2 linked regions of the Homo sapiens genome follow. The protein of the gene in region 2 purifies or fractionates together with the protein of the main gene of each other region. This does not show direct contact. Each region holds a gene or a part of one and is shown on either strand. Other genes may lie near its edges.

Region 1 (3,753 bases), on a different chromosome or scaffold from region 2:
CATCCCAGACGGGGCGGCGGGGCAGAGGCACTCCCCACATCTCAGATGATGGGCGGCCGGGCAGAGACGCTCCTCACTTCCTAGATGGATGGCGGCCGGGAAGAGGCGCTCCTCACTTCCTAGATGGGATGGCGGCCGGGCAGAGACGCTCCTCACTTTCCAGACTGGGCAGCCAGGCAGAGGGGCTCCTCACATCCCAGACGATGGGCAGCCAGGCAGAGACGCTCCTCACTTCCCAGACGGGGTGGCGGCCGGGCAGAGGCTGCAATCTCGGCACTTTGGGAGGCCAAGGCAGGCAGCTGGGAGGTGGAGGTTGTAGCGAGCCGAGATCACGCCACTGCACTCCAGCCTGGGCACTATTGAGCACTGAGCGAACGAGACTCCGTCTGCAATCCCGGCACCTCGGGAGGCTGAGGCTGGCGGATCACTCGCGGTTAGGAGCTGGTGACCAGCCCGGCCAACACAGCGAAACCCCGTCTCCACCAAAAAAACACAAAAACCAGTCAGGCATGGCGGTGCGTGCCTGCAATCGCAGGCACTCAGCAGGCTGAGGCAGGAGAATCAGGCAGGGAGGTTGCAGTGAGCCGAGATGGCAGCAGTATAGTCCAGCTTCTGCTCGGCATCAGAGGGAGACCGTGGAAAGAGAGGGAGAGGGAGACCGTGGGGAGAGGGAGAGAGGTGAGACGGGAGAGGGGAGAGGGGAGAGGGTCTCGAAACAATTACTTGTAAAAGCAATCTTTTAAATATTTTTAATGAAATTATTTAGCTGGCATTTTTCCCCTTAAAGTTATTGTATAATGGTATTATACAATAATTGAAATCAGTTGGCCATCATGAACTGATATACATGAGCATTAAAATGCCCATCAGTTTCACTTGCTTATAGATACATCCTAATCCTTCCAATTGGAATAAGAAAATATATTTCGTGATAATGGCAGTAATATATGTCTCTCTGAACTGAGTTTGTAAAACATTTTAAAATCCAAACTGTATTGTTGATCAGTGTATTAGGAAAATAATCATTCTGCTGCTATACTTAAATTAGTTAAGCATTTGTTGGAAAGTTGTGATTGTTTTAAGATATATGTAGATAAATTGGAATGAACATGAGAAAGAATAACATACAATGGTTACAATCTGGAAAATAGGTCTTATGAAAAAATGTTAAAGGAATTAGGGCTGTGTTAGCTCTCTGGAAAGATGACTAAATGATAAATTATGACTATTGCTTAAACAGTTAACAAGAAGAGTATAACCATCTACTTTTTCATCTATCTAGAGCAAATTAAAAAGTTATACTTAAATTCAGCTTAAAAACAACAAATATTGAAATCGGCCTAGCACCAAAGATGTTGCAGAATCAGTAATAGTGGAAATCATGAATAAATCAAAGCTCACAAGAGTGAAGTGTACTTGGTACCAGGGTTTTGTTTTAATGGGGGTATAAATCTTTGCACATATGTATTCATCTTTCTAGATTTTTGTTGTTGAGATGAAATAGATTTAATTCCCCAAATTTAGCCAGTTAGTAAGATCCTGTATTATTGAGAGATCCTGTATTATTATTTATTTTTTAGTTGGTATTGGTGAATGATTTTGGTAACAGTTGTTTAAAGGGTTAAAGTATTAAAGATACAGAAAAGTGATAATTACCTTTGAAGGTAAATCAAAAAAGCTGAAGTCCCAGTTACAGCCACACTACATCATTTGCTATTTTACTTTGAAAATTTACATATCATTTGTTATATATATTATACACATCCCATGTAGTGCTATGGTTTATTTCTTATGCAAGATTAAGAAACTGTAATAACTAGAACAATAGAGCTCCTATTCCTGGGGTCAAGACATGGAAGTACAGTGGTCTTCTTTTATTTTACACTTTATTTTAGAATCCCTTATGCCTTGGACGGTAGAGATACAGTCTTTGTTTAAAATGGTGATTGAACTGGATAACCTATTAAAATGCCTTCCAACTCAGCAAGTAACTTGTAGATTAGTGATTTCTATATTGAATTTAATAATGGAGATATTATGGTGTTCAGAACATCTGAGTCTCTAATAAGAAACTATTTTAACTTCTCTGGGCTTCATTAATCTTACCGTTTAATGTGACAGTTTAGTTGATTTCCATCATCCCTTCTGGTTTTAAATTTTATAATTTAACAGATTTAAAGAGAAAAATATCTCTCATTTTGAAAGTTAACAACAATCTATTTAGTTTAGGTCTATTGCATGTTTGAATTTTAATGTGAGATCCAGTTCAAGTTAAGGTATATTTTATACTGTTAGAACTCGTGACAGTTTCTATGTCAGAATTTAGTACATCTGGAATATGACCAGTTATTACTAATAGTAAAGAAAGTAGACATGTCTTTCTTATTAGGAAATTTAATTATGTACTTAATGCATGTATTTTTTCCAGAGAACTGGGGAAGAGTGTAATTGAAATAAAAGTACATTATAGACATTAAAATATTCTCAGCTAAACATGGAAGGACTTTAATATTTTTTCAGTTTTAGAAACCTATTACTCCCTTTTTTTGTTTAATGCTAGACATTAGCAACAATGTTGGGTAGTCAGTGTTTCTTTCTTTCTTTCTTTTTTTTTTTAATTGAGACAGAGTCTGGCTTTGTCACTCAGGTTGGAGTGCAGTGGTGCGATCTTGGCTGACTGCGGCCTCCTCCTCCTGGGCTCAAGCAGTCCGTCTACCTCAACCTCTGAGTAGCTGGGACTACAGGCTTGTGCCACCATGCCCAGCAAGATGGTGTTTTGCCATGTTGCCCAGGCTGGTCTTGAACTCCTGAGCTCAAGCAATCCATCTGCCTCTGCCTCCCAAAGTGCTGGGATTATAAGCATGAGCCGCCGCTCTCAGCCAGTAGTTAATGTTTCTTACTTTGTAGCTAATTAAGGCTCAGAGATGTTTAGTAATTTGCCAGGGTGTTCCTGATATCATGTGGTAGATAGAGCCAGAATTTTAAACTCAGTGTTAGAATTTAAAACTTAGTTGTGTTTCATTCAAAAATTGTGTTGTTTCCTCTGGTTCTCAAACTTGGTTGTGTTTGAGAATCATCTTGAGTGGCTTTTGCAAAAGAATAGATGCCTGTTTCACTGATAATCAGTAGATCTTTTTGAGTATCGCAGGTATGTTTTAAAAGCTCCAAAAGTGATTCTTATAATGTCAAAAAATATTCTACATCAGCACTTCTCAAATTTCAAAGTACATACAAATCACCTGGGGAAATCTTATGAAAATGTAGGTTTGGGTTCAGTAGGTCTGGGCAGGGTCTGAGATTTTGCATTTCTAACAAGCGTCCAGGTGAATTGAAGAAGGTCCTCTATGTCCACATTATGAATAGCAATGAGACACACTATGTGACATTTGATTTGTGATTTGAAATTTTTGGCTACAATTCCTGTGAAGGCTGTAGTTCATTCACATTTCTTATAAGAGATATGAGAGCATGTTTTAATATCCCTTACATGCCTTTGAATTTTTACTTGAAGAGCTTTTCCTTTATATATGAGAGTAGCAAGTTATGAAATATTTACTGAAGCTTTAAATCATCCAGCTATGGGACTGTATTCACATTCTGTTAACTGATTTTGGAAATAGTAGAGTCCAGTTAAAATCCTGGTTAGATGTCATCTACCAGATTTCATTATATAGTTACATATTCTGTTTAGTTTTGATAGTTTGATGAAAAGTTTATATAAAAACTGAGCCTGGTAGCATACATTTATTATTA
Region 2 (3,753 bases):
AACTGTCACATTTGTCTTCTCAGAGGAACTGAGATTTAACTGTGTTTTTCTTTTCCTGGCATATTTTTTCCTCTAACAAGTCAGAGATTTGTTGCATGTTACTTGCTGCAATAGAGCAAATAAGGAATACTACTTTGCCTCTGTCTCATTACAGCTGTCCCCAATCTCTTCATGCTGGAAACAGTGGATTCTGTGAAGTTGGCAGACAAAGTGAACAGTTCCTGGCAGAGAAAAGGTTCTCCTGAAAGGTTAAAGGTTATGGTCCAGATTAACACCAGCGGAGAAGAGAGTAAGTAACCAGACCTGAATTGTAGATTTTTCTTCCTTTAGGATGGTTGAAGCTTAGGGAGAATGGGTGGGCCCAAGTGTCTGATGGATAAGGTTATAGAAACAAATCACAGGATCACAGGCCTCTAAGTTGGCTGTTTTATGTGTGATCTAGGTAGCATAATGGCATGCAAAGCAGTCTATGTATCATTCTTTACTACATCATGGTTCATTATATCTTAATTTTAGGGGAAGAAGAATGGATGGGGAGTTCAAGAAGGGGATTGTGACTTCGTTTTGTATTTTTGTTTTTTTTTTGAGATGGAGTCTTGCTATGTCGCCCAGGCTGGAGTGCAATGGTGCGATCTCGGCTCACTGCAACCTCCGCCTCCCGGGTTGAAGCAATTCTCCCACCTCAGCCTCCCAAGTAGCTGGGACTACAGGCGTGCACCACCACGCCTGGCTAATTTTTGTATTTGTAATAGCGATGGGGTTTCACCATATTGGCCAGACTGCTCTCGAGCTCATGACCTCTCAAGTGATCCACCCATCTCGGCCTCCCAAAGTGCTGGGATTACAGGCGTGAGCCACCACACTCAGCCTTTTTTTTTTTTTTTTTTGAGACAGAGCCTCACTCTGTCGCCAGGCTGGAGTGCAGTGGCACGATCTCAGCTCACTGCAACCTCCGCCTCCTGGGTTGAAGCGATTCTCCTGCCTCAGCCTCCCGAGTAGCTGGGATTACAGGCACGCGCTACCACGCCCAGCTAATATTTGTATTTTTAGTAGAGACGGAGTTTCGCCATATTGGTCAGGCTGGTCTTGAACTCTTGACCTCAGGTGATCCACCCACCTCAGCCTCCCAAAGTGCTGAGATTAAAGACATGAGCCACTGCACCCGGCCTGGGATTGTGTCTTTCATCTGGAAACCCCCAAAGGTCACCATCACTCCTACAAGGAGTATTTTAAATTTTTAAGACCTAAGATTATATAAATACTCTTAGATCTTAAAAAAATTACTTGATGTTGCATTGGGAGAGAATGGAAGATAATTACTGTGAGTGGGCCAGGTGCGGTGGCTTACACCTGTAATCCCAGCACTTGGGAAGGCTGAGGCAGGTGGATCACCTGAGGTCAGAAATTCGATACCAGCCTAGCCAACATGATGAAACTTCATCTCTACCATACATACAAAAATTAGCCAGGCATGATGGTGTGCACCCATAGCCCCAGCTGCTCGGGATGCTGAGGCAGGAGGATCCCTCGAACCCAGGAGGTGAATATTGCAGTGATCCGAGATCGCGCCACTGCACTCCAGCCTGGGCGACAGAGTTAGACTCCATCTCAAAAAAAAATAAATAAATAAAAAATTATGGTGAGCACCAGTCAATGAATATCTTTATGGGGCTTGGATTAACAGTGTAACATAGTGTGAATAGAAGCATGGGCTTTGAAATCAGACAGACCTTGGGTTTCAGCTACACTACTTTCCAGTATTGTAACCTTGGATAAGTTACCTAATCTCTCTGTACTTCAGTTTCCTTTTTTGGCAATGGTATCATGAGAATGCTTACTTCAGAGGGTGTGGTTAGGACTGAATATGATAATCCAGGCAACATTGTTAGCACAGAACCCTACACATGTTGTTAGCTATTCGTTAAGAATAAATGTATACAGATCAGGCATTTGATTGCAACCATCAAAGCACCAGTATTCACCAAATCTTAGTATGCAGGAACACAGTAGAGGCATCTGTTTTCTAGATAACGTCCTAGAGTCAGACTACCTGGGTTTAAATCCCAATTATCAATAGAAATCTGAAATCAACTATAGGTCAAGTCTTTATTGTATCATTTCTTGATAATTAGCTATAATATGCCCTATTTAAAGACTGAAGTAAATGTTACTAGTATCTCCGCCTAATAAATGGGGGCAAGACAATATCAATAGCTCTTATAACTGTATAACAAATAATTGCTTGCTGCAGATTTCTCTTCCAGTTGTTAATTAGAAAGTTCAGTTAAACTTTGCTAATATATAGCCAAAAATATTTAACATGTACTTTATACTAAATTTTTTGCAACTCCATTAAATTAATAAAACTATAAAAATTCTTGATTTAGAAAAGTAATTCTCAGGTTCATCTGGCATTTTGGCAATGCAAATCTTCCTGGTATCCCAAAAAAGCAAGATTTTTTCTTTTCCATGTCTCCTAGCTGTTTTCAGCTGAAATCCTGAGATGGAGGAAAGAGAATCCAACTGATAGTTCTTTTCTTGAGAAATTTAGAACCTGACCAGAAGCAGAGCAACATAGAAAACCCCAAGTATAAAGTTACTCTTTAGGACTTGAGGCTCTTTCAAGAGGTTCTCTTGTTGGGGGTCACCTCTTCTGTCGTAAGGAAGGGAGGAAAATGGAGCCTTCCTCTGGCCATTTACCCTTGCAGTATACCTGTTTTCTGTTTCTTTTCTTGAAGGTAAACATGGCCTTCCACCTTCAGAGACCATAGCCATCGTGGAGCACATAAACGCCAAGTGTCCTAACCTGGAGTTTGTGGGGCTGATGACCATAGGAAGCTTTGGGCATGATCTTAGTCAAGGACCAAATCCAGACTTCCAGGTACTGGGGGGTCGGGGAGATTGCTCGTGTGCTAAAGAAGCAGGGTGCTGGAGTGCTATTGCAGGGCTGGCTGCAGTGGGGATTGCAGAGTCATCCCAGACACTGCCTGTTGAGTGTTCTAGCCCTCTTTTGAACTCTTCTCAGAAGGAAAAGGGAAGAACAGGTTTCCAAAGCCCCACAAACCTTTTTCAACTCAACTTGAACTTGGCTAAAACATAGTCTTTAGAGAATATGAGATTTCTTCCTCTCCAGTGACTAATAGTTTTCTCGAAAGTGGGATAGTTTGCAAAAAACCCTTTCAGTAACGTCTGGCAATTTTGGCAGGCCTTGAAATCATAAGGAATACATAACCGTTGTCAGAGAAGTTCAGATTCAGACACTTTTGGGCATCGTTAGAGAAGGCAGGAGTAAAATAGGTGTCATCTCTTTCTGTCAGCTGTTATTGTCCCTCCGGGAGGAGCTGTGTAAAAAGCTGAACATCCCTGCTGACCAGGTTGAGCTGAGCATGGGCATGTCCGCGGATTTCCAGCATGCGGTGAGTGTCCTGCCAGTGCCCTGTCTGCCTCGAGGGGTGGGGGTAGGGGGTCTGAGAGGCTGACACAAGAGCAGATCTTTGCTGTAGAAGCCTTGGAAATGCCTTGGGATGGCAGTAAGGTACCCAGTGTCAGCTATTCCAGCATCTCCCATTCCCCATGCCCTTTCTTTTTTGAAAAGAGCCAGGTGCGGTGGCGCACGCCTGTAATCCCAGCACTTTGGGAGGCCGAGCCGGGCAGATCACGAGGTCAGGAGTTCGAGACCAGCCTGACCAACATGGTGAAACCCCGTCTCTCCTAAAAATACAAAAATTAGCTGGGCGTGGTGGCGCACGCCTG

What was found. Proteins that work in one complex are often made in the same cells at the same time.
Region 1: the proteins of PLPBP (region 2) and ARFIP1 fractionate together in Homo sapiens (co-fractionation; 2 studies listed by BioGRID). This does not show direct contact.

What each region holds. Positions count from the first base shown.
Region 1 is NC_000004.12:152,866,848-152,870,600, forward strand, and holds part of ARFIP1 (arfaptin-1), read left to right. Parts: intron 1-3,753. UniProt on the Homo sapiens protein: Plays a role in controlling biogenesis of secretory granules at the trans-Golgi network. Mechanistically, binds ARF-GTP at the neck of a growing secretory granule precursor and forms a protective scaffold.
Region 2 is NC_000008.11:37,772,601-37,776,353, forward strand, and holds part of PLPBP (pyridoxal phosphate homeostasis protein), read left to right. Parts: intron 1-154; coding exon 155-289; intron 290-2,708; coding exon of another isoform or gene 2,709-2,738; coding exon 2,739-2,881; intron 2,882-3,317; coding exon 3,318-3,416; intron 3,417-3,753. UniProt on the Homo sapiens protein: Pyridoxal 5'-phosphate (PLP)-binding protein, which may be involved in intracellular homeostatic regulation of pyridoxal 5'-phosphate (PLP), the active form of vitamin B6.